4 separate regions of the Homo sapiens genome follow, and all the other regions are linked to region 1. The links come from fine-mapping of genetic effects on gene expression. A gene starts in region 1. Each other region holds a variant in brackets. All regions are shown on one strand. Distances are between the middles of the regions.

Region 1 (5,556 bases):
TGGAATAAGCAAGATGACATTGTTCTGTTGTGAGCCTCAAGACATTACAGAAAGCAGAGGATCGGGGAGAGACCTGACTTGACCCCAACTCCGGTGAAAAGGATCTGAATGATTTAGTTGACCACAACCTGATGGGAACTAATCATGGGAGAGAAAGGCTCTGAAGCCCAGCAGTCTTAGGCTGCATTAACAATGTGTCGCATCCAGACTGGAAAAAATAATAGGCCTATTGTGCTGGCTTGGTCAGGCCATATCTGGAATCTTGCGTTGCTACACTGACAGACTGGAATCAGGCCAGGAGGGGGACCAGCCCAGCTTCAGCTCCCAGGCACTTGTGCTAAATGCTTCCTGTGCATTTTCTTGTTTCATCCCCAAAACAAATCTATTAGGTAGCTACTATTAATTTTTTTTTTTTTTTGAGACAAGAGTCTTTGTCTGTCACCCAGGCTGGAGTGCAGTGGCACGATCTCGGCTCACTGCAACCTCCGCCTCCTGGGTTCAAGCGATTCTTCTGCCTCAGCCTCCTGAGTACCTGGGACTACAGGTGTGCCCCACCACACCCGGCTTATTTTTGTATTTTTAGTTGAGACAGGGTTTCACCATATTGGCCAGGCTGGTCCGGAACTCCTGACTTCGTGATCCACCCACCTCAGCCTCCCAAAGTGCTGGGATTACAGGCGTGAGCCAGGGTGCCTGGCCAGTAGCTACTATTAATATCACCATTTTACACAGGGAGGTTAACTGAGTTGTTCAGAGTCAGCCGCACAGCTAGTAAATGGAGACACTTAGGGCTTTTCCTAATGGGTTTCTGTGTGCTTGTACCTTAGCAGGGGAAGACTGAACATTCATTCACTGAACACAATAATTCAGGCCCTAAGCTAGTTGGTGGGGACACAGAAGTGAAAAAGATGCGGTTCCTACCTGAGGAGCTCATTGTCAACCGGGGGATACAGATCACTTGTGGTATGGTGTGACTGTGGGAGAGAAGATTTGGGGGCTGCAAGGGAGCTTAGCTAACCAAGCCTGGAGAGGGGAAAAGAGACAGAACAGTGTCACACAGCTTGGAGTAATGGGGCCAGCCATTCCCTTTCCACAGTATTCAGTGCCTCACTTTGGCTCTCTTCTGCTCAGCAATGGCCAAGAGCTGTGTGCCCAGATGGGATCTGCTGGCGTATGAGGGAGCATGGTGTGACCATCCTGGGGCAGATAGACCTTATCTCTCCTCCCTGCAATCAGAGATTTAAAGAAAGGAAGAAGGAGGCTGACATTAAGGAGCACAGGAACCGGGTGGGTAGCCTTTGAGAGTTCCAGCAGCCCCTTCACTAATCAGAGAACTGGAAAGACCGGGGTGACATTGACATAAGGGACTCAGAGGTGGAACTAAAGACTGTTCTTTTCTGGCATCCGTGCCTGCCTTCTGTTCCAAACTAATGCCCTCCCATCTTCTTTTGAGGACCACATTTCTGGGCATTCTCTTTTTCAAAACTTTCCCTGTTTCAACCCTCAGTGCCTCTGGAGCCATGTATCTCCCAGGGCTTCTTGTTGGGAGACACATACACCCCATTCTGCCGTCTGTAATTTATGCTAAGAGGGATAGAGCAGGGCTGTTGAGAGCAACTGCTTTGGTATCGGACAAAACCTTTCAGGCCTGGCTCTGCTACATAACAGTTGCTTCACTTCTCCAAGTTTCCCCTTCCTGTGCTGTAAAATGGGGATAATAATAGTACCACCCTCACTTGGTGGTTTTTGAGGGCCGAAAGAGATCATATTAAGCATGGAGGAAGCTATCCATAAAAAGGCCACTGTTGTCATAGTGTACTAGCGGGCGTAGCCCCGGCTTCTCTCCACGACTTGGGAGCTCCCTTCTGGCAGGGGCAGCCACTGGATTGCCTCATCTTTCTCCCCATTGCCCGGATGCCAAGGGCAGGACGGGGGAATGGTGTGTCTTCGGGGATGAGAGAGAGGCATCAGGAGGGAAAGTGTCAGCGTACGTCCTCTAGGCTTGAAGAAGGAGAGAGGCCCTGACTCCAGATTTTAAAGTGGGCTTCAGAGCCCCTACCTTTCCTAGGCCTGGGGCTCAGAAGTCATGGGTGGTAGGCCCGACTCGGGGAGAGTCGGACCTTGGGGACCTCGGGGACCTCGGGCAGATCGGGGACCCCGGGCAGATCACTTTCAGCCTGGGGCCTCGGTTTCCTCGCGCGTGTCTGGGAGGTCTCGCGGCCTGCTTCTCGGATTGCTAGGAGCCAGCGCAGGCAGATGCCGGTTCCGGGGCTTGGAGAACGTGGCTCGGTGGCACAGAGCCGCCGGGCGAGGCGGGGGCAGGGAGGCGGGCGACGGGATTGGCTGGAGGCGGGGCAGCGGGGCTCGGGGATTGGCCGCAACCGAGAGGGCTGGGCAGAACTATAAGAGGCGCGGAGGGGGCGTGCAGCAGAGTGCGTTCCTCGTCTGCCAGCCGGCTTGGCTAGCGCGCGGCGGCCGTGGCTAAGGCTGCTACGAAGCGAGCTTGGGAGGAGCAGCGGCCTGCGGGGCAGAGGAGCATCCCGTCTACCAGGTCCCAAGCGGCGTGGCCCGCGGGTCATGGCCAAAGGAGAAGGCGCCGAGAGCGGCTCCGCGGCGGGGCTGCTACCCACCAGCATCCTCCAAAGCACTGAACGCCCGGCCCAGGTGAAGGTGAGGGCCCGGCACCCCGCGTGGAGGGCGAGGGGAGGGAGGAGGCGGAAATGGGGGATCAGGGGCGTCCCGGGGTCGGCCTGGTCAGGGGACCATTGGGATAGCCAGGGACAGGAAGCCTACGAGCCAGAGAGGACCTGGGGGTGCCCTGGGACAGGGGGTGACGGAGAAAAGCTGTGGGCGCCCTCGCCCCCCTTTGCTCACCCGCACTCCACGCTCTGCGGAGAGGCTCTGCCGGCAGCCCCATGTGATTCCCCGCTCTGCCTAGCCGGTTTCCATTCTTCCGTGTTGAGCGGCTGGGGCTTGCCGCCCCAAACCCCAGAGATGACCCCAGAAATCTGGGAAACTCCCCTTGGTTCCCCATCTCTCATCCCCTACCTCCCACTCCACCCACCTACTCTTGCGCCTCAACTCTGCTGTTAGGGCCGCTCAAGTTCATTCATAAGAACAAGAGCTCTGCTCTTAAAGGAGCCGCGTCCCTCAGGCATTTGTCTGAATGTGGATGTTCGCGCGGGAACGGTGCTTTGCGCATCGAGACCATCGACCACATCCCCAGCCCTGGGGACTTATTGAAGGACCAAATAAAATGAGGCGGCCCCCTAGGAAAGGATCTCAGGCAATAGATACCTTCGTGGGAGGTGACTGCCTTTTCCTTTTAATTTTATTAACTGATCTTTGGAAGGAGCTGGGTGAGCAATTATGCTGTTACTATGTATGAGTAATATCTACTTTCCCTGGGCAACCCAACCTCCCTAGTGCCCCACCCGGAGAGGGATCAGGCCTGAACCTGGAGGCCTTTCCTCCCGTCTCCAAGGTCCTCTAGGAGCTCAGGGGTGGAGGGCGATGGGTCGGGAAGCTGGAGAGTAGGACAGTTCCTGGGTCCGCCTGAAGCTCTGGCTGCCTATAGTGGTCAGGGATGCTCTGGGATAGGTGGAACAGCTGCGCCTGCAGCCAGCTGGGCCGGGCCCCCGTAGCTCTCTAGAGCTCTCACCAGGAGTAGGCAGGTGGATCCTGTCTCTGAGGCAGGGTGGGAGCCTGGGCTGGGCTCAGGCAGCTCTTGGCAGCAAGCGGATTTTCAGGTTGTGGCAGCTGGTGCCGGGTGGGGACAGGTCGGCTGCTGGAGCATGCTCCCCCTGAAACCTGGAAAGGAGCAGTGCCTGAGGCCTTGGGAGGAGTTCTTTAGGGATGGTGGGCTGATAAGTTTCCTTAGAATCTCCAGGAGGGAGGTGGCTTAGGGGCTACTTTCACACAAGTATGGATTCCCCTTTTCCATGTTCCTAAGAATGGAGAACACCTTTCTTTTGTATAAAGTGGGATCTCGGAGATCGAGACCATGCTGGCTAACATGGTGAAACCCCGTCTCTACTTAAAATACAAAAAATTAGCTGGGTGTGGTAGTGGGTGCCTGTAGTCCCAGCTACTTGGGAGGCTGAGGCAGGAGAATGGCGTGAACCCAGGAGGCGGAGCTTGCAGTGAGCCGAGATGGCACCACTGCACTCCAGCCTGGGCAACAGAGCAAGACTCTGTCTCAAAAAAAAAAAAAAAAAAAAAAAAAAAAAAGGTGGGATCTCCTGGATAGGAACAGGTCAAAGCAGAGTTGTTTGTTCTGGTAGAGCTGGCCAGAGGGATGGTCCTTCCTGTGGAACCTTCTTGGATGGAGGCCAGAACCTTGGGCCTTTCATCTTTTCCTCCTCTTCCCAGAAAGAACCGAAAAAGAAGAAACAACAGTTGTCTGTTTGCAACAAGCTTTGCTATGCACTTGGGGGAGCCCCCTACCAGGTGACGGGCTGTGCCCTGGGTTTCTTCCTTCAGATCTACCTATTGGATGTGGCTCAGGTGAGTGGTCTAAGCCTTCGAGGGCTCCTTCAGCATCCTGAGGTGGGAAAGACTATGCACCCCTGGGTCAGTTCGCTCAGTTTTCCCCATCTGTGAAATGGGACCCCAAATCACTACTTTGCTGCCTCTGAGTCAGTGAGCAAGAAATGAGAAGACCCTGGAAAGTATCCAGTAAAGGAGTGTCTCCACTCCAGGAGTCTTTGCTGGAAAGGTCTGGCAACTCCTCCTTGCCTGGCATGAGCAACAGAGCCTGAAGGGGTAGGCGGTAGAATGAGGGAGAATGGGGCCTGCTGGGGATGCTGTTCTTAGAAGAGACTGGCACACTGTGTTCCTGGCTGGGAGATAGTCAGCTGGCTTGACTCAGGGGTTGGTGGCTGTTGCCAGGCTTGTGGATGAGATGCATCCCACCTTTACCTGAGGAGCAGAAGGGCACTTAGGTGCCAGGCTAAGTTAGAATGCCCCAGTACACAGGGTCTTTGACTGGGAGGGGTACTTAGGGTGAAACAGGACTATTCTGTGCATTGAGAAGCCTTGGCCAGAAGCCTGGCATCCTGAGAATTCACCCTGTCTGGATGGGAGAGTGGGAGGCAGAATAGCCATGACTACCGGGGCTCCTGCACCAGCTGTCTTCTCTGTGTAGCATCTAACTTGGCAAGCATCGCATCTTAGTTGTATCCATTTACAGAGGGGGAACACTGAACTCCAGAAGGAACAAAAAACTTCAGCAGCTAATTTTTGAGTAACTCCCATGGGCTGGGCCTTGGGTGGGGTGTAAATATGAGGAACCTGCAGTCAAAGTGTAAACCTGTTGTAGTGGGTGTTAGAGCTGGGGTTGGGGGGTTAGACTAGGGAGACTATGGTATGGGGAAGAATACCCACTCCCCAGAGAAATAGCAATAGCAGGGCTTTGATGGATAAGGAGGAGTCTGGAGAGTCTGTATTTAGGGCCTGGGGGGTTTTGGGGCGGGGAGGGGGATAACTTGAGTGGGTAGTGACAAGTCCCTTTTTAAAAAGCATCTATAGGCTCCTTTTTCCACATCCAAGATAGAG
Region 2 (5,556 bases), 48 kb before region 1:
CTCACTGCAGCCTTGACTTCCTGGGCTCCAGGGATCCTGCTACGTCAGCCTCCTGAGTAGCTGGGACCATAGGAGGCATGCACCACCACACTTGGCTAATTTTTTGTAGAGATGGGGTCTCCCTATGCTGCCCAGGCTGGTCTCAAACTCCTGGGCCCAAGTGATCCTCTCACCTTGGCCTCTCAAAGTGCGGGGATTACATATGTGAGCCACCACATCTCACCTCTAATGCTTTAAAGTAGAGATATGCCAATTGTATTAGTTTGTTTTGACACTGCTGTAAAGAAACACCTGAGATTGAGTAATTTATAAACAAAAGAGGTTTAATTGACTCATAGTTCCGCATGGCTTGGGAGGCCTCAGGAAACTTACAATTATGGCAGAAGGGGAAGGAGAAGCAAGCATCTTCTTCACAAAGCAGCAGGAAAGGGTGTGAGTGCAGGAAAAACTGCCATTTATAAAACCATCGAGTCTCGTGAGAATTCACTCACTATCACAAGAACAGTATGGGGGAAACTGCCCCCATGATCCATCACCTCCTACCAGGTTTCTCTCTGGACACATGGGGATTACAATTCGAGATGAGATTTGGTTGCAGACGCAGAGCCAAACTATACCTTATAGAGACAGAAGAACTCTCAGGCCCAGTCTAGACTACAACCTGGTTAAAAGTATTAATGCAGCTAAAGAAAGAGGGTGCCAGTTAGGAGGGTCTGGGCAGCCAAGGAAGCCAGAGATCAGGGAGAGTTGCCAAGACAATCACCAGCAGTGTCCCTTCTCTGGGGACAAAGATGCTGGTCCAGGAAAAAGGGAGATGGAAGTACCATTCTTTGGAGCCACTCAATTCACCCCCTACCTCACTCATGCTCTGGATCACCAAGCAACCCTCTAAAAACCATTCTGTTTCCTATGTAGATCAGTCCACAGGGAGAGAATGCACTCATCATTGAACAGGAAGATCCAGTCTGCTTCAAAGCCCTGCTTCCTCTTATAAATTAATGAATTGGCATCTGATTTGCAATATCAGTCTCATGAACCTGGTTAATGTGTGTCTGTTCTGTAGAGATGCTGCTGCTTTTAGGGCTAACAACTCTGGTTTCTAAGCTGGACCCAGGATGCTGATGAATTTACCAAGGTAACAAATGCTACCCCAGGGACCTTCCATTTTTCTGCAATATTTTATTTCCTTTATTTTTTCTAAAATATGTTTTTAATCAAAATACATGTAATAATTTTTTAAAAAATCAATTAGGCATATGGCAAAGTTAAAAAAAAAAGGCCATCTTCTGTCTTGCCATCAACTGATTCCCACTCCCCAAAGGCAGCTATTGTTTTAGCTTTTTGTTTTTTGTTTTTGTTTTTGTTTTTTGAAACAAAGTCTCACTCTGTCGCCCCGGATGGAATGCAGTGATGTGATCTCAGCTCACATCACTGAGTGTGTGTGTGTGGTGTGTGCCACCATGCCCGGCTAATTTTTATATTTTTAGTAGAGACAGGGTTTCACCATGTTGGTCAGGCAGGTCTCAAACTCCTGACCTTGCGATCTGGCTGCCTCAGCCACCATGCCAGGACTGTCCCTCATATTTCTTTCCATATTTTGACCAATACAGAGATCTACTTTTTCCTGATTTTTAAATTTCTTTCTTTTTCTTTATTTTTTTGAGATGGAGTCTTGCTCTGTTGCCCAGGCTAGAGTGCAATGGCATGATCTCTGCTTACTGCAACCTCTACCTCCTGAGTTCAAGCAATTCTTCTGCCTCAGCCTCCTGAGTAGCTGAGACTACAGGTGTGCGCCACCATGCCTGGCTAATTTTTGTATTTTTAGTAGAGATGGGGTTTCACTATGTTGGCCAGGCTGGTCTCAAACTCCTGACTTCAGGTGATCCACCCACCTCAGCCTCCCAAAGTTCTGGGATTACAGGCGTGAGCCACCATGCCCGGCCCTTTTTCTTTTTCTTTTCTTTTTCTTTTTTTAAATTGCCCTTGCAGAGCAAGCCTAACTCATACTCATAGGTAGAGCTTCCAGAGCCAGCCTAAATTTCCTTTACTTTCTTTTTTTTTCTTTTTTCAAGACAAGGTCTCACTCTGTTGCCCAGGCTTGAGTGCAGTGGCACCATTTTGGCTCACTGTAGTCTCAGCCTCCTGGGCTCAAGCGATCCTCTTACCTCAGCCTCCCTAGTAGCTAGGACTGCAGGTGCACACCACCACACCTGGCTAATTAAAAATTTTTTTTTCTTTTCTTTTCTTTTTTTTTTTGTAGATACAGGGTCTGACTATGTTGCCCAGGCTGGTCTTGAACTCCTGGGCTCAGTGATCCTCCTGCCTGGGCCTCCCCAAATGCTGGCCTAAGCCACTGTACCCAGTTTATAATTCCTTTCTTATACAATATTTTTTTTCAGTGTTAAATTGCCTCAGTTTTTCTTTTGCTTAGATTTCTACATATCTATTATGAATTTAACCCTACACATTCCCACTAGAGCTACAAAGATTACTCCATATGGTCAAACACACTAGGTAATCAGTCTATCAGTTACATTTTTTTTCTAGGAATCATCTTGGTTGGAGTCCTTTGTCTTCCTGTTCTAGTCTGAACTTATTGATCTCTTGGCCTGCTTCACAATTGTCATCCTGTGACTTCCCTTTACCATCATCTTGGAAATTCCCTCTGCTTCTCTCCTGTGTCGCATCCCCTGTTTTCTGGAGCTTGTTTCTTCCTCTTTCT[C/A]GTTTTACTTCCTCACTTTGGTGGAGCATATCCTCCAGCAGCTGCTTTGAGAAAAGGTACTTGGGAAGTAAAAGTTTTGAGACTTTGTGTTTCTGAAATTTTCTTTGGTATACCCTTTGGTTGATGGTTTGGCTGGCTAGAGAATATTAGATTAGAAAATAATTTCCCCTGAGAATTCTAAAAGTACTTTTTTTCTGTTTCTTAGCAGCCAGTATTGCTATTGAGAAGACTGATGTCATTTTATCTACAAACCTTTGTATGTGACCTGTTTCTCTGGTAGCTTTTAGGATATATTCTTTGTCCCTGGCATTTTAAATGTTTTCAATGATGTGCCTTGGTGTGGGTCTGTTGGAATAAAGAATTTATTGGCCTTTCTCCCCAGTTCCTTGGAGGTAACCTCTAAATCCTTGGAATTTCCCAGGTAATAGGTGTGTCTGTTATTTATGGCAGGCACTGATAGCTTATGCTAATAAGGTGGCCCATGGGGGACCCCTAGATAGTTTAAGATGACTCATGATAGGGGCTGTCCATGCCAGAAAGACAAACCATGTGATTAGAGTGCTGGGCTTTTGAGCCACTTGATAATCAATCTGACCTCTGGGCAGGGGAAGAGGGCTGGAGATTTAGTTAAATAATCTGGACAATGATTCAGTTAATCGTGCCTACATAATGAACCCTCAATAAAAACTCTGGACACTGAAGCTCTGGTGAGCTTTTCTGGTTAATAATAGTCTGTGTGTATTGTTACACATCAATGTGCCAGAGGATGATGCATCCTGACTTCACGGGAAAAGGACACTGGAAGCTTTAAGTTTGGGATCCTCCAAGACCTTGCCTTTTGTGTCTCTTCTTTTGCCTGGTCCTGATTTGTATTGCCTTTGCTATAATAAAACTGTAACTATAAGTTTAGTGCTTTCCTGAGTTTGGTGTTCTGTGGAATTATTGAACCTAAGTAGGTAGTGGGAACCCCCAGATTTGTAGTCATTTGGTCAGAAGTGTGGGTGGCCTGGGAAACCCTGAGCTTCTATTAATAGCTGGTTTCTGAAGTGAAGGCAGTCTTGTGGAGACTGTGCCATTAACTTGTGAAGTTTGGCCTAACTCTAGATAGTGTCAGAATTGCATTGCAGCATCTTTTTGAATTCTTTGCGCTAAGCCTTTTTATTTATTTATTTATTTATTTTATTTTTATTTTTTTTAGATGGAGTCTCGCTCGTCTCCCAGGCTGGAGTGCAGTGGCGCAATCTTGGCTCACTGCAAGCTCTGCCACCTGGGTTCACGCCATTCTCCTGCCTCAGCCTTCCGAGTAGCTGGGACTACAGGTGCCCATCACCACGCCCGGCTAACTTTTTGTATTTTTAGTAGAGACGGGGTTTCACCATGTTAGCCAGGATGGTCTCGATCTTCTGACCTCGTGATCTGCCTGCCTCAGCCTCCCAAAGTGTTGGGATTACAGGCGTGATCCACTATGCCCTGCTATTTATTTTTTTTAAATTGAGACGGAGTCTTGCTCTGTCACCCAGGCTGGAGTGCAGTGGCACAATCTCAGCTCACTGCAACCTCTACCTCCTGGGTTCAAGCAGTTGTCCCACCTCAGCCTCCCAAGTACCTGGGATTACAGGTGCCCATCATCATGCCTGGCTAATTTTGTTATTTTTAGTAGCGATGGAGTGTCCCCATATTGGGCAGGCTGGTCTTGAACTCCTGACTTCAAGTGATCTGCCTGCCTTGACCTCCCAAAGTGCTGGGATTACAGGCAGGCGCCACCACACCCAGCTGCCCTAAATCTTTTAATATGGAAACCAATTCACTCTGTAATTATTCCTTTGGGAAATTCCTCCCCTCCATTTTTTTTCCCTTCTCCCTCTCTGAAACTCCTGTCTTGTCTTTTCTTTTCTCTCATCTCTACCTTTATGTGTTCTGTTCAACTTCCTAGGAGTCAAACTTCTAATCCTTTTTTTTTTCTAAAATAAAAATAGAGATAGGGTTTCCCTATATTTGCTAGGCTGGTCTCAAACTCCTGAGCTAAGCAATCCACCTGCCTCAGCCTCCCAAAGTGCTGGGATTATAGGTGGATTATTAGTGTGAGCCACCACACCCAGCCAAACGTCCAATCCTTTTATTCATGTTCTCAACTTCCAATCCTTTTCTCAACTTAAACATTTTTTGACTGATATTTTTTAATTTTTAAGACCTCTTTTTCTTGTTGTTCCCTAAATGTTCCCTTTTTGGAGCTTCCTGTTCTTTTTCCATGGACACAATCTTTTTCCCATTTTCCTCTGAGGCTATTAATAATAGTTTTCATACTTATTATAAATTTTGAAAGTCTTTCCTGCTCCCTGTTTTCTCTGACTTCTCCCTTGCTTACTTTGCTCTGTGTGTTTCATTAGAGGCTTTCTCAAACATCCGATAATCCTTGGTATAGATGTTTATGTATATTACAGAGTAGAGCCAGGCATGGTGGTGTGCATATGTAATCCCTTGGGAGACTGAGGCAGGAGGATTGCTTGGGCCCAGGAGTTCAAGATCAGCCTGGGCAATATAGTGAGACCACATGTTAAAGAAAACAAAACAAAACAGTGAGGCATTAAAAGCTGATTGAAAGCTCTATATGTGTGTGTGGGGAGGTATTTGATTACTGAGCTTCACTAAAGGGTTTTAGGCAGGTACCTAGCAGGGGACTCCTCAACTGTCAGTATGAGTACATCTTTCTTTTTCTTTTTTTTCTTTTCTTCTTTTCTTTTCCTTTCTTTTCTTTTCTTTTCTTTTTTCTTCTTTTCTTTTCTCTTCTTTTCTTTTCTGGGACAGAGTTTCACTCTTGTCACCCAGGCTGTAGT
Region 3 (5,286 bases), 270 kb before region 1:
CAGATTTGAGCCTCAGTGGATAGAAGTGTTGTTGCTGAGAAGCAGGTTTGGGAAGGATCAAGAGTTATTCCCCAGTGGGAATGTGAGCCCGTAAGTGGGCTGTGCCAGGGGAAGTGTTTGAAGAGGTACAGGCCCTCCTCAGGAAGTGTGGCCAGACCTTGAAGGCAGAGTGGACCCTCCTCTCTGACCTCCCTGGGAGGAATGTCCCTGCAGAGTCTGGGTTTCCCAGGACATGGCTTGGGAGGTGCCTCTGACCTGCCTAGAGTCTCTTTGGAAGAGGGTCAGGCTCCCACCCCAGGTAGCCTGTCCTCAAGATACTCTGGAAAAGGAAGCCCTTGGGCTGGCAGAAGGAATTCCACTCCCATAGCCCGATGTCTGCCAGTGGGCTTCTAATTCTTACAACTGGGAAAACACTAAATAGCAAATCTGAGGTTGGTCCATTCCTTCCCACTCCCCTTTGCTGGGCTGACCTCAGGCTAGTTACAGATCCTCTCTGGGCCTCAGATTCCTCCACTGGGCCATAAGGAAGACCAAGGAGCAGTGCAGGTAGCAACATCCTTCCCCACTCCCAGAGGATGAGGAATTGTATGCCCTCAGGAAAAGCCAGGGAGGGGGAGCATGCCATCTTCAGGAACCTGAGGCTGGGCGGAAAATGGCTACACTGAGGCCAGAGCAAGGATGCCTCTGGAACACCCATAGGCAAAAGGAGGCAGGCCTCACCCCTCTCCCAAATCCAAAGGACTCTCAAGGCTCAGGGTATAGTCAAGGAAGCTGGAGAAGTCAGGCAGAGATGTCTGATGGGGGGAGGCACAGCCTCTCCAGCTGTCTTCCGTAGGATGTGCCTGAGAGTCAGCATGAGGGGCTGGGTCTGTGTGTGGGAGCATGTCAATGTCTGAGGCTGCAAATCTGTCAGAGTGCACACGTCTCTCTGTGTGTGTCACAGTGTCTGTGTGGCTCTCACCTTATACCCCTTTTCTCCTCCCTGCTCTGTGCTGCCTTCTCCACAATTCTCTGTCTCCTAGGGTCCTTCCTGTTCCCTGCTTTTATTGGGTCTCAGACCCAGACTATGCCTCCTCCTTTATTTCTCCTCATTCCCTCTAGATCATCAGAAGGTCAAAGCTGAGCCTGGGCAAGATAAGGAAACCCTGTTTCTACATAAAATTTAAAAATTAGCCAGACATGGTAGCATGTGCCTGTAGTCCCAGCTGCTCAGAAGCTGAGGTGGGAGGATCACTTGAGCCCAGGAGGTTGAGGCTGCAGTGAGCCGTGATTGAGCCACTGCACTCGAGCCTGGGCAACAGAGCAAGACCCTGTCTCAAAAAAAAAATAAGTAAATAAAAAATTAAGAAAAGAAGGTCAAAACTGGCCGTGCCCTTTAAGATCATCCCCTTATTTCAGTGAAAATGGAAATTGAGAGATAGGAGAAAACTGGCTCAGGGTTACACAGCAGGTCAGTGGGAGGGCCCAGATGAGCACTCAGGCTGAATCCGTGCTACCTGCCTGGGCCACCGTCTCCAAATCATGGCTACTCTTGTTCAGCACAGACCTTCTCCACCCACATCTGCCCTCTGGGAAAATCAGAGCTCTGATCTCCCTTTTGGCCGCAGTGGAACCATCTGGGGCCACAATCTCTGACACCCAGGAGATAGCCACCCTAGGGGTGTCCACCAGCACCTCTGAGACAGCAAGTCTACAGCCAGACTCGCTCCCAACCAGAGATGGTCAGACTGTCTCTGTTGCCCCTTCCTTCTCTCCCTCATCCCCGGGGTGTGGGGAACACAATCTTAGTTACCTTCATTTTTTCCCTTCCCTTTGCCCTAGGTCTAACTTGCCATCAAGTCCTGTTGTCTCTTATTTTGAAATGCTCTTGGTACCTTCATTATGTCCATAGCCAGGGACACAGCCGAGGGGGCTGAAATCAAGCTATGCTCATGCCCATGGGGCTTCCCTGCCTGGCAGGAAGTGCCTTTCTTTTGATTCCTCTGTTAGGAGGGAATGGCTTTTTCCCCCCGAAAGTTACAATATAGACTAGAAGTAGCCATGCCCATGGGCCCCCTGAAACTCTAGAATCCTCTAGAATCTGGTCTCAAAGTGCCCACCTATCTCGCCTCAGCTCTCATTGCTCACTCACCACCGCATACTCCTCTCAAGCCAGCCTTCTCACAGCCAGACACGCCTCACCTCTTTGCTAAGCTATTTTCCTCTCCCCTAATATCCTTTCTTCTCTCCTGGACTATAATCAGTCTTCAGGGCCTGGTTGAAGCCTGCTTCCTTATGATCAGCCTTTTCCAGTCTGGACAGTGGAGAGTCAGCAGCCCAAGCTCAGCACTTTGGGCATGAGTCAGTCCCCCACAGGCGTGTAGACTTCATAGCCCTCTGACCCTCACCTGGTGCTGTAGAATTCCAGGATGCAGTCTGATTTGAGACAGGTCTTTGCATTAAACCCCTGCCTGAGTCAGAAAAAAAATCCTCCAGACCTTTTTGCTCAATGGCAAGGAGTTGATCCCCTCCAATATGCCCCAGTCCACTTTTGAGCAGGTTGAAGCGTGAGAAAAGTTTATTTTTCCCATGGGGAAAATAAAAGTGCTTTTCCCTATGCACTCACTTCTCCCAGTGAGTGCTTAGTCCTCACTGAGTCTG[G/A]GACCCATGAGAGCAGGGGTTTTTTCTCTCTTATAGCTCCCCTACCCTGGTTCCCACCCTGCCTTCTGTGCCTGCACAGAACTGCTCTGTGGAGACGCAGTGGCAATGCCTAGGACACAGTGATGTTCAATGAATGTCTCTTGGTGGATTACGTAAGAGGAGCAGAACCCCCTTCTTCCTCCCTGGATCTATGTCAGGCTGTTTTGTTTATCTGTGTTCTCCTGCTATCACACCCACTTCAGAGACAATGGAACCCAGACCTAGGGGAAGGAAGGGTTCACCCCAGGTCAACTATAGCCCATCAGCAGCAAAGTGAAGGCCAGAACCCAGCTGGGGACATGCTCTGCTGGAGCTGTGGCCCTGCTGAACATGGGCAGGCTCCTCTGCTTACCTCTTGAGGGCTGTCCTCCAGCTATGAAGGAGCTGGGACTGTCCCATACACAAAACCATTGTCCCAGTGTGCCCAGAGGTTTCTTCAAGAGGGCTAAGGGCTGTGGGCTTTGAATGGAGAGGTGGCTGAGGCTTTGAATGGGAGGGACTGAAGGAGGCAATAATCCCACACCCTCACCCAGCTTCAGAGGAGCTGGTACTGAGGTGGTTGCCATGGTGACAATAGCTCCCTGGTCAGGAGATTTTTTCTCTCTTTCCTCTCCTCCCTTTGCTCTTCCCCAAGCAGCAGCAATAGCAGCAGCAACCAGGTCTTTTCCCTCTTCTTCTTAATGAGAGGCAGGGGATGACAAACAAAGAGTAATCCCAGCTGGCCACCTACAATTTGGAGCTGTCCATGTCAGGATGGGCTGGTGGTCTAGGAGGGACTCCTAATAGAAGGGGCCTGGAGAATGTGTGGGAGGAGGTAGCCTGTACCTAGGCTGGTTAAGAAGGAATGTGTCTTCAGTGAGTTCTAAACCAACCCCGCCCCCCTCAGGTCTCCTCTCTTTAATGTCCTCTTGGTTCAGGATCCTGTTTTTCCATAATCAGCCATAGAACCAGAGTGTCTCAGTGCCAGAAGGCTGTTCAAGTTCATCTCACCCAGTCTACCCTCTCTGTTATACCTCTCCCCATTTTCATGAAGGATCAGAGAGGGGAGTGACTTGGCCAAAGTCAAACTTTGGCTGTACAAGATTTGAACCCAGCTCATCTGCCCTCCAGGTATAGTTCACTTTAGGGCCAAGAGCAATACAGCCCACATGGCACCTTGGCAAGGTCCCCACGGAGCAGCAGGAAGGTGGGAGAGAGGGAGCAAATAGTCATACAAATTAGAAAGACATTTGACAGGCAGAATGAGAGGATTTGGTGCCTGGCTGTGAGGGGGGAGGGAGGAGGTATGGAGGTTGGGGCCTTGGCAGCAACTGGACTGACGGTATGGGTGGTCTGCTGGGGGTGGTGTCTTTGGTTCATCCTCCCGCCAGGATGAGAGATGCCAAATATGGGGCCTCTGCCTAGCACTGGGGGCCACTGGGGAGGGCTGTCGAGACTGTGAGGAGAAAAACTGGGGAAGGGGGATTGTCCCCCCCTCAGGTATGCTGTGGGCTCTGTCAGCTTGAGGGGTGGGATGTGGGGACAGTGTCTGGGGACAACAAGGAGGGAGCGCTCTGTGGAGGGGGAGGCTGTCTTTGGGGGCAGGGGCTCCCTGATGAGAAGTGGCTAGGGGCTATCCGTGGAGGTGGGAGTTTGCCATGGTGCTGGGCAGACAACCCATATCCAAACAGGAGGGAGGGTGACCAGCGCCTCCAGCTAGCACCAGCGCCACCACACCCCCAGATGTGTGTGTGTGCATCTGTGTGTGTATGTGTGTTTGCGCGCGTGTATGTTGGGGGCCATAGCAATGGTTGTTCTCACCTGAGCTGGGGATAAGTAGGCGGCTCTGCCTCCTTCTCTGCACCCATGGGCCTGGACTGAGGTGGGGGGTCTCCTGCCCAGGGGTGGGCTCTTCAGTTGCTGCCGCCTAAGGCGGAACCACGGGTCAGGGAGGTGAATCAGGGCAGGACATGAGGATGGGAAGGGAGAGTGGAGGGGGAGGGGGCCAGGGCCTCCGCCCGGTGGGTTTGTTGCCTTGAGGACCCGGTCCCACTCGCATTACCTGAGGCCGGTCGCCGGGTCGCTGGATGGCTCCGAGCCTCGGCGGGCCGCGGGAACCGAGGCTGGCTCGCGGGCCGGCAGCTGTGCTCTCCAAGGTCTGCGCCGGAGCCGCCTTCCAGCTCTTGTATCACTATGTGCCTCCCGAAGGCGACACTATTTGCATAAGCCCCGCCCCATCCCGGGCAGGTTGCACGGCTATTGGCTCCTCTGGAGCGGAGTGGCAGGCGGGGTTTCAGGTGGGGACCGGGTGGCCGGCGAGGCCCGGCCGCAGGAGCGCGCCCCGCCTGCCCGCGCTGACCTTCCCGGAGTCGCCGGGAAGCGGGAGGGCTGCACCCCCATCTGCACCCCTGCCCTGAGGCTCAGCCCCCGGCTTACAAGTCTGGGGTGGAAAGGGTCGACGATGAAAGTGGATTCTCAAAAACAACCTCACCGTTGCTATGGAAACGGGAGAACCACAGCCGAATCTCTAAGCTTCCTTTCCTGGGCCCCAGCATGGGTGGGGGCGGAAGAGGGGATGAGTCACAAGATGAGACCCCCCCCCACACCCATATCCCACCCGAAATTGGG
Region 4 (5,556 bases), 35 kb before region 1:
ATGATGGGGTTTCTCCTTGTTGACCAGAATGGTCTCGATCTCCTGACCTCGTGATCCGCCCACCTTGGCCTCCCAAAGTGCTGGGATTACAGGCGTGAACCACTGTGCCCGGCCAACAATTCTTATTTTCATTAGGCAGATTCCTGATCCAGGTTGTCTGAGAGGGCTTTCTGGAGGAGGGAAATTTGATCTGATCCATAAGATGTCTAGGATTTTAGTGGAAGTAAGGAGGTGAAGAGGGGAGAGGAGGAGAAAAAAGATTTAGGGAGGGGAGAGTTAGGAAGAGGAAGGGCTCTGGAGCTGGCCCCAGAAGAATTAACCAGGTGTAAAATCTGGTTTCTTATCCTATATCTGTGGCTCTGTTACCTTGGCTTGGGTTTCACTGCAAAGCTGTGCTTTCCTTAGAACCCTAAGGAATGTGGCCTTGCTTTAAGTTCAGTGAAAAAGGGGTTCAGGAGATCTTGTGTCTCCCTCTGCAGCCAACCTGGGGAAGGGACCAGGCTTAGAGAGAAAACAGCAGCTTTCAAGAACAGGCCAGGAGTGGTGGCTCCCGCCTGTAATCCCAGCACTTTGGGAGGTTGAGACAGGCAGATTACCTGAGGTCAGGAGTTCCAAGACCAGCCTGGCCAACATGATGAAACCCGTCTCTACTAAAAATACAAAAATTAGCCGGGTGTGGTGGCGGGCACCTGTAGTCCCAGCTACTCGGGAGGCTGAGGCAGGAGAATTGCTTGAATCTGGGAGGCAAAGGTTGCAGTGAGCCGAGATCACGCCATTGCACTCCAGCCTGGGTGAGAAGAACAAAACTCCATCTCAAAAAAATAAAAAAAAAAAAATAAACAGAAGTAGGATGAAGGAAAAACTACTCTGAAGCAGTGTTACGGTGAGCAGGCTTGTACTGACCCTTAGTTTTCTCATCTCTAGAGAGGTTTTTTCCTATCTAGCAGCATTATTGGAGAATTAAATTAAACTGCAAAGTTTTAGCACAGTGCCTGGCACAGAGGAGAATTCCAAAAATGTCAGTTTTCTTCTCTTCTTCTTTTTGTTTTTTTAATTTTGAGACAGAGTCTCGCTCTGTTGCCAGGCTGGAATGCAGTGGTGCGATCTTGGCTCACTGCAACCTCCGCCTCCCAGGTTCAAGGGATTCTCCTGCCTCAGCCTCCCAAGTACCTGGGACTACAGGCATATGCAACCATGCCCAGCTACTTTTTATATTTTTAGTAGAGATGGGGTTTCACCATGTTGGCCAGGATGGTCTTGATCGCCTGACCTCGTGATCTGCCCACCTCGGCCTCCCAAAGTGCTGGAATTACAGTTGTGAGCTGCCGCACCTGGCCTGGACATTTAAGGTAAACAATCTGGGTAAGGTCCCAATCAAGGCCCTCAAAGCCTGGCTAAGGAACTTGTACTAAAGCTGAAAGCATTGGAGAATCATAGGAGGCTTGTGAACGGAAGAGTGACAGATATATCTGTGCTTTGGAAAGATCACTTCTGGGAGAAAAGAGTCCTGGTGTAATGCAGGATGCAGCATCCTGAGCCCCAGATCTGCATCTAACAGACTCCATGGTTTCATCTTTGCCCAACACATGAATGGCCTCCATCAGTGTTTCCCCAGTGGGCTATGAATTGTGTGAGAGCTTGATTCCTAACACAAACTGAATCTTCCAGTTTACCTTCTCAGAGATAGAGCTAATTAATTGCAGGGGTCAGGGTCAGGCGGGGTATTCCCCAAACCTGAAGGGCTAATATAGCCAGCCTGAGCTGCCACACAGAGGATGAGATGGGATTTCTGAGCAGCTCTGGAGATTGTGATAATGACTAAAGCCCAAGGAGGCCCTCCTGGCACTCCCCCTCACGGGGACATAATACTAAGTGACTTGTGCTTGAGGGCAATTGTGAGACTGTTATGTACCCTTTTTAAGGTACTTTTTTTTTTTTTTTGAAGTGAAAGCAAGTTTATCAAGAAGGCAAAGAAATAAAAGAATGGCTATTCCATAGGCAGAGCAGCCCCTTAAGGTCTTAAGGAGGATTGATGACAAACTTCCTCCGCACCCTTCTTAAGGTGCTGAGCTCTGGGCACAGGTGGAGCAAGATAATCACCTGGAAATAACAATTCTGTCCACTAGAGGGAAACCCAGTCTAGAGAGA[T/C]GGGGAGGGAAACCCAGGCTAGAGAGATGGGGAGGGAAACCCAGGCTAGATGCGTGGGAGCCCTGAGGCTGGAGGAAACAGAAGGAGCTGACGGCCCCAGGAGCCAGTGGACCCAGTGATCTAGGTTCAGTGCTGTGCTGGAACTGGCTTGTATCAGCTTAGTGAGAATTGACTCTTGCATTTTCAGGAATCTTGAGAGCTGGTTGGTAAACTTGGTCATTAAATATTAAATTATAGCTGGGCACGGTGGCTCACACCTGTAATCCCAGCAATTTGGGACGCCCAGGTGGGAGAATCGCTTAAGCCCAGTGCGAGACCATCCTAAGCAACATAGGGAGACCCTTGTCTCTACAAAAAAATCAAAAAATTAGCCAGGCATGGTGGTGTGCACCTCTAGTCCCGGCTACTCAGAAGGCTGAGATGGGAGCATCACTTGAGTCTGAAAGGTCCACGCTGCAGTGAGCTATGATTGCACCACTGCACTCTAGCCTGGGAGACAGAGCAAGACCATGTCTCAAATTTAAAAAAGAGAGAGAAAAAAAAAAAAAAAGGCCAGGCATGGTGGCTCACGCCTGTAATCCCAGCACTTTGGGAGGCCAAGGCGGGCGGATCACGAGGTCGGGAGATTGAGACCATCCTGGCTTACGCGGTGAAACCCCATCTCTACTAAAAATGTAAAAAGTTAGCCGAGTGTGGTGGCAGGCGCCTGTAGTCCCAGCTACTCGGGAGGCTGAGGCAGGAGAATGGTGTGAACCTGGGAGGCGGAGGTTGCAGTGAGCTGAGATCATGCCACTGCACTCCAGCCTGGGCAACAGAGCAAGACTCCGTCTCAAAAAAAAATAAATAAAAAATAAAATTAAAATTAAAAAATAAAAATTATAATGTGTCATGGAATTAGGGCACAAAATTAATAAAGTAAAAATTAAACTATATAAATTTACATTTAAATAAACTATATTGGCTGGGCATGGTGGCTCACACATATAATCTCAGCACTTTGGGAGGTCAAGGTGGGCAGATGACTTGAGCCCAGGAGTTTGAGACCCACCTGGGCAACAGGGTGAAACCCCATCTCTACAAAAAATACAAAAATCAGCTGGGCATAGTGGTGAGCGCCTGTAGTCCCAGCTACTTGGGAAGCTGAGGTGGAAGGATCACTTTAGCTTGAGAGATCGAGGCTGCGGTGAGCTGTGATTGCGCCACTGCGCTCCAGCCTAGTGATGGAATGAGCCCTTGTCTCAAAAATAAATAAATAAAATAAAAATCAATCCCTAATTATTTTATTATGTTTTACTATTATCTGCCTATCATATCAGTTATGGTGAAAGTACTATGTAGTGGTTTGCTACTGTCCAACTTCAACTTTGATTTTTTGTTTTGTTTTGTTTTGTTTTGTTTTGTTTTGAGATGGAGTTTCATTCTTGTTGCCCAGGCTGGAGTGCAATGGCGCGATCTTGGCTCACTGCAACCTGTGCTTCCTGGGTTCAAGTGATTCTCCTGCCTCAGCCTCCCAAGTAGCTGGGATTACAGGTGCCTGCTGCCACACCTGGCTAATTTTGTATTTTTTTAGTAGAGACGAGGTTTCACCATGTTGGCCAGGCTGGTCTCAGACTCCTGAGCTCAAGTGATCCACCCGCCTCAGCCTCCCAAAGTGCTTGGATTACGGGCGTGAGCCACTGTGCCCGGCCCAACTTCAACTTTGGTAGCTTGCAGTTGGTCATGGCAGATTATTTACTTCATGGAAACCCACAAATGCTACAAATCAGGGTTCCCCACCTCCTGCCGCCCACCTTCCAGTTTGTTAAACATTTGCCAGGCTATCGCTGCTTAGGCATCCCCACATCAGGTGTTATGGGGAGGACATGGAATTTTCCAGAGGTCTTGCTGACACAGACACACTCAGAGATATCCCTGTGGAGGGAGCACCCCATTTCAGCTGGTAGAAGTTGTTGGGGGCATCATGGGAGCATTGTTGTGTTGTTGCAGGAACGTGACCTGGAAGTTCCCACCCTGACTCCAGCTTTGCGCAACTGTTCCATCCACCGGAAATTGGTCTATACTTAAGTGCTCAGGCATCCCTTTCTGTCTGCCTAGCAACGAAGTAAGGTTGGTGATCATCCAGTGCTAGAACGATCATCCCCCATCAGAAAGGAAGCTTTATGAAGGGCAGGGAAGCCCCCACCTCGGTTCATATCCTCAGGCCTGGCTCAAGTCCCTGGGCCTAAGTATTGGAGCCGCCACACAGAAAACCCAGGAACAAGCAAGACACTGGAGTTAGGCACATCTAGGCTGCGCCACCCCTAACTGTGTGACCTGAGAAAGGCACCTAAACCAAACTGGTCTTGTCTCCTAACCTGTCAAATAGGGAGATTCCTGCTTATCATGCCTGACCGTGGTGAAGATTAAATAGGATCATCCATGCAAAACTCTCAGCTGGGCGTTTCCATCACCTAGAAGGTGTTCCATGATGTCAAAGCTATTATTGTTTTCATACTTGGGATGGGGAGTGCCGAATTCAAATCGGTTCTGAGTGCGGGTCTACTCTGACACCCTGTGTGTCAGAAGGAGGGGCGGGACTAGGAGGCAACAAATCCATTACAGCACAGTTGGCAGATGTGTCCAGTCACACAGCCGGGAAGTGGACCAGGGACTGGACAGCAGCCCTCCGCCCAGGACTCGGCCAGATGTTCCAAGCCTAGCAAGGGGCGCTTCTACCCCCACCCATCCTCCCCGACAACCTAGGCCTGTGGCTTGGAGGAGGCAGAGGTGGGGGTCGGCAGCCGGACGTCGCAGGCCCCAGGCTGCGCGCAGGAAGCGGCTCCAAGGTTGTCCTAGAGCCTCAAAGCGGCGGAAGGGAGGGAGCAGCCGGCACCTGCATTGTGCGAGCCCCGCTCCCCGCTGAGCTTCTGTGACCTCTGGCTCGCGCTCTTGGCATCCGCTGCTGGGGCAGGGCCCGCGGCTTTCAGACAGGTATTAACCGGGCAGAGGATACTAGATCTGCGCTGGCTTTCATTCATTCACGCATCCACTCATTCGTGCATCCATCAGTTATCGAGCTGCGGCAGGAGTTAGTGCACAAAAACATAGTCCATGATCGCAGGGACCATACTCCTGCTAAATCATGGAGGTTTGGGGAGTTCCTTCAGACTCTCAGTAAACTTATTCGTGGAGGTCTGATTTTTTTTTTTTTTTTTTTTTTTGAGACTGAGTCTTACTCTGTCGCCCAGGCTGGAGTGCAGTGCCGTGATTTCATTTCACTGCAACCTCTACCGCCCAGGTTCAAGCGATTCTTGTGCCTCAGCCTTCGGAGTAGCCTAGCTAATTTTTGTATTTTTAGTAGAGATGGGGTTTCGCTATGTTGGCCAGGCTGGTCTCAAACTCCTGACCTCAGATGATCCGCTCGCCTCA

Alleles and levels. Alleles are on the strand shown, and positions count from the first base shown. SD is a standard deviation of normalised expression in the study named. Not every link is listed here.
For the expression in nucleus accumbens of the gene that starts at base 2,430 in region 1, allele A in region 3 goes with a lower level than allele G (small effect, 0.35 SD a copy in GTEx).

The links. PIP is the estimated chance that this variant, and not a neighbour inherited with it, causes the effect.
Region 2: its variant is fine-mapped to the expression of MFSD2A in whole blood (TOPMed, PIP above 0.99).
Region 3: its variant is fine-mapped to the expression of MFSD2A in nucleus accumbens (GTEx, PIP 0.99).
Region 4: its variant is fine-mapped to the expression of MFSD2A in whole blood (INTERVAL, PIP 0.94).

Annotation. Positions count from the first base shown.
Region 1 is chr1:39,952,716-39,958,271 of GRCh38, forward strand. MFSD2A (MFSD2 lysolipid transporter A, lysophospholipid) reads left to right here and starts at 2,430. Exons shown (of 14, transcript NM_032793.5): 1 at 2,430-2,670; 2 at 4,372-4,506. The coding sequence starts at 2,578. RefSeq lists a silencer at 2,252-2,381.
Region 2 is chr1:39,905,032-39,910,587 of GRCh38, forward strand. No RefSeq gene overlaps it. Among named protein-coding and RNA genes, the nearest start is that of MYCL, 5.9 kb to the left of the region's middle. The variant C/A (reference allele first, on the strand shown) is at 2,723.
Region 3 is chr1:39,686,586-39,691,871 of GRCh38, forward strand. HPCAL4 (hippocalcin like 4) reads right to left here and starts at 4,848. Exons shown (of 4, transcript NM_016257.4): 1 at 4,721-4,848. RefSeq lists silencers at 3,124-3,350, 4,625-4,704, 4,925-5,154 and an enhancer at 5,227-5,286. The variant G/A (reference allele first, on the strand shown) is at 2,641.
Region 4 is chr1:39,917,555-39,923,110 of GRCh38, forward strand. No RefSeq gene overlaps it. Among named protein-coding and RNA genes, the nearest start is that of MYCL, 18 kb to the left of the region's middle. The variant T/C (reference allele first, on the strand shown) is at 2,149.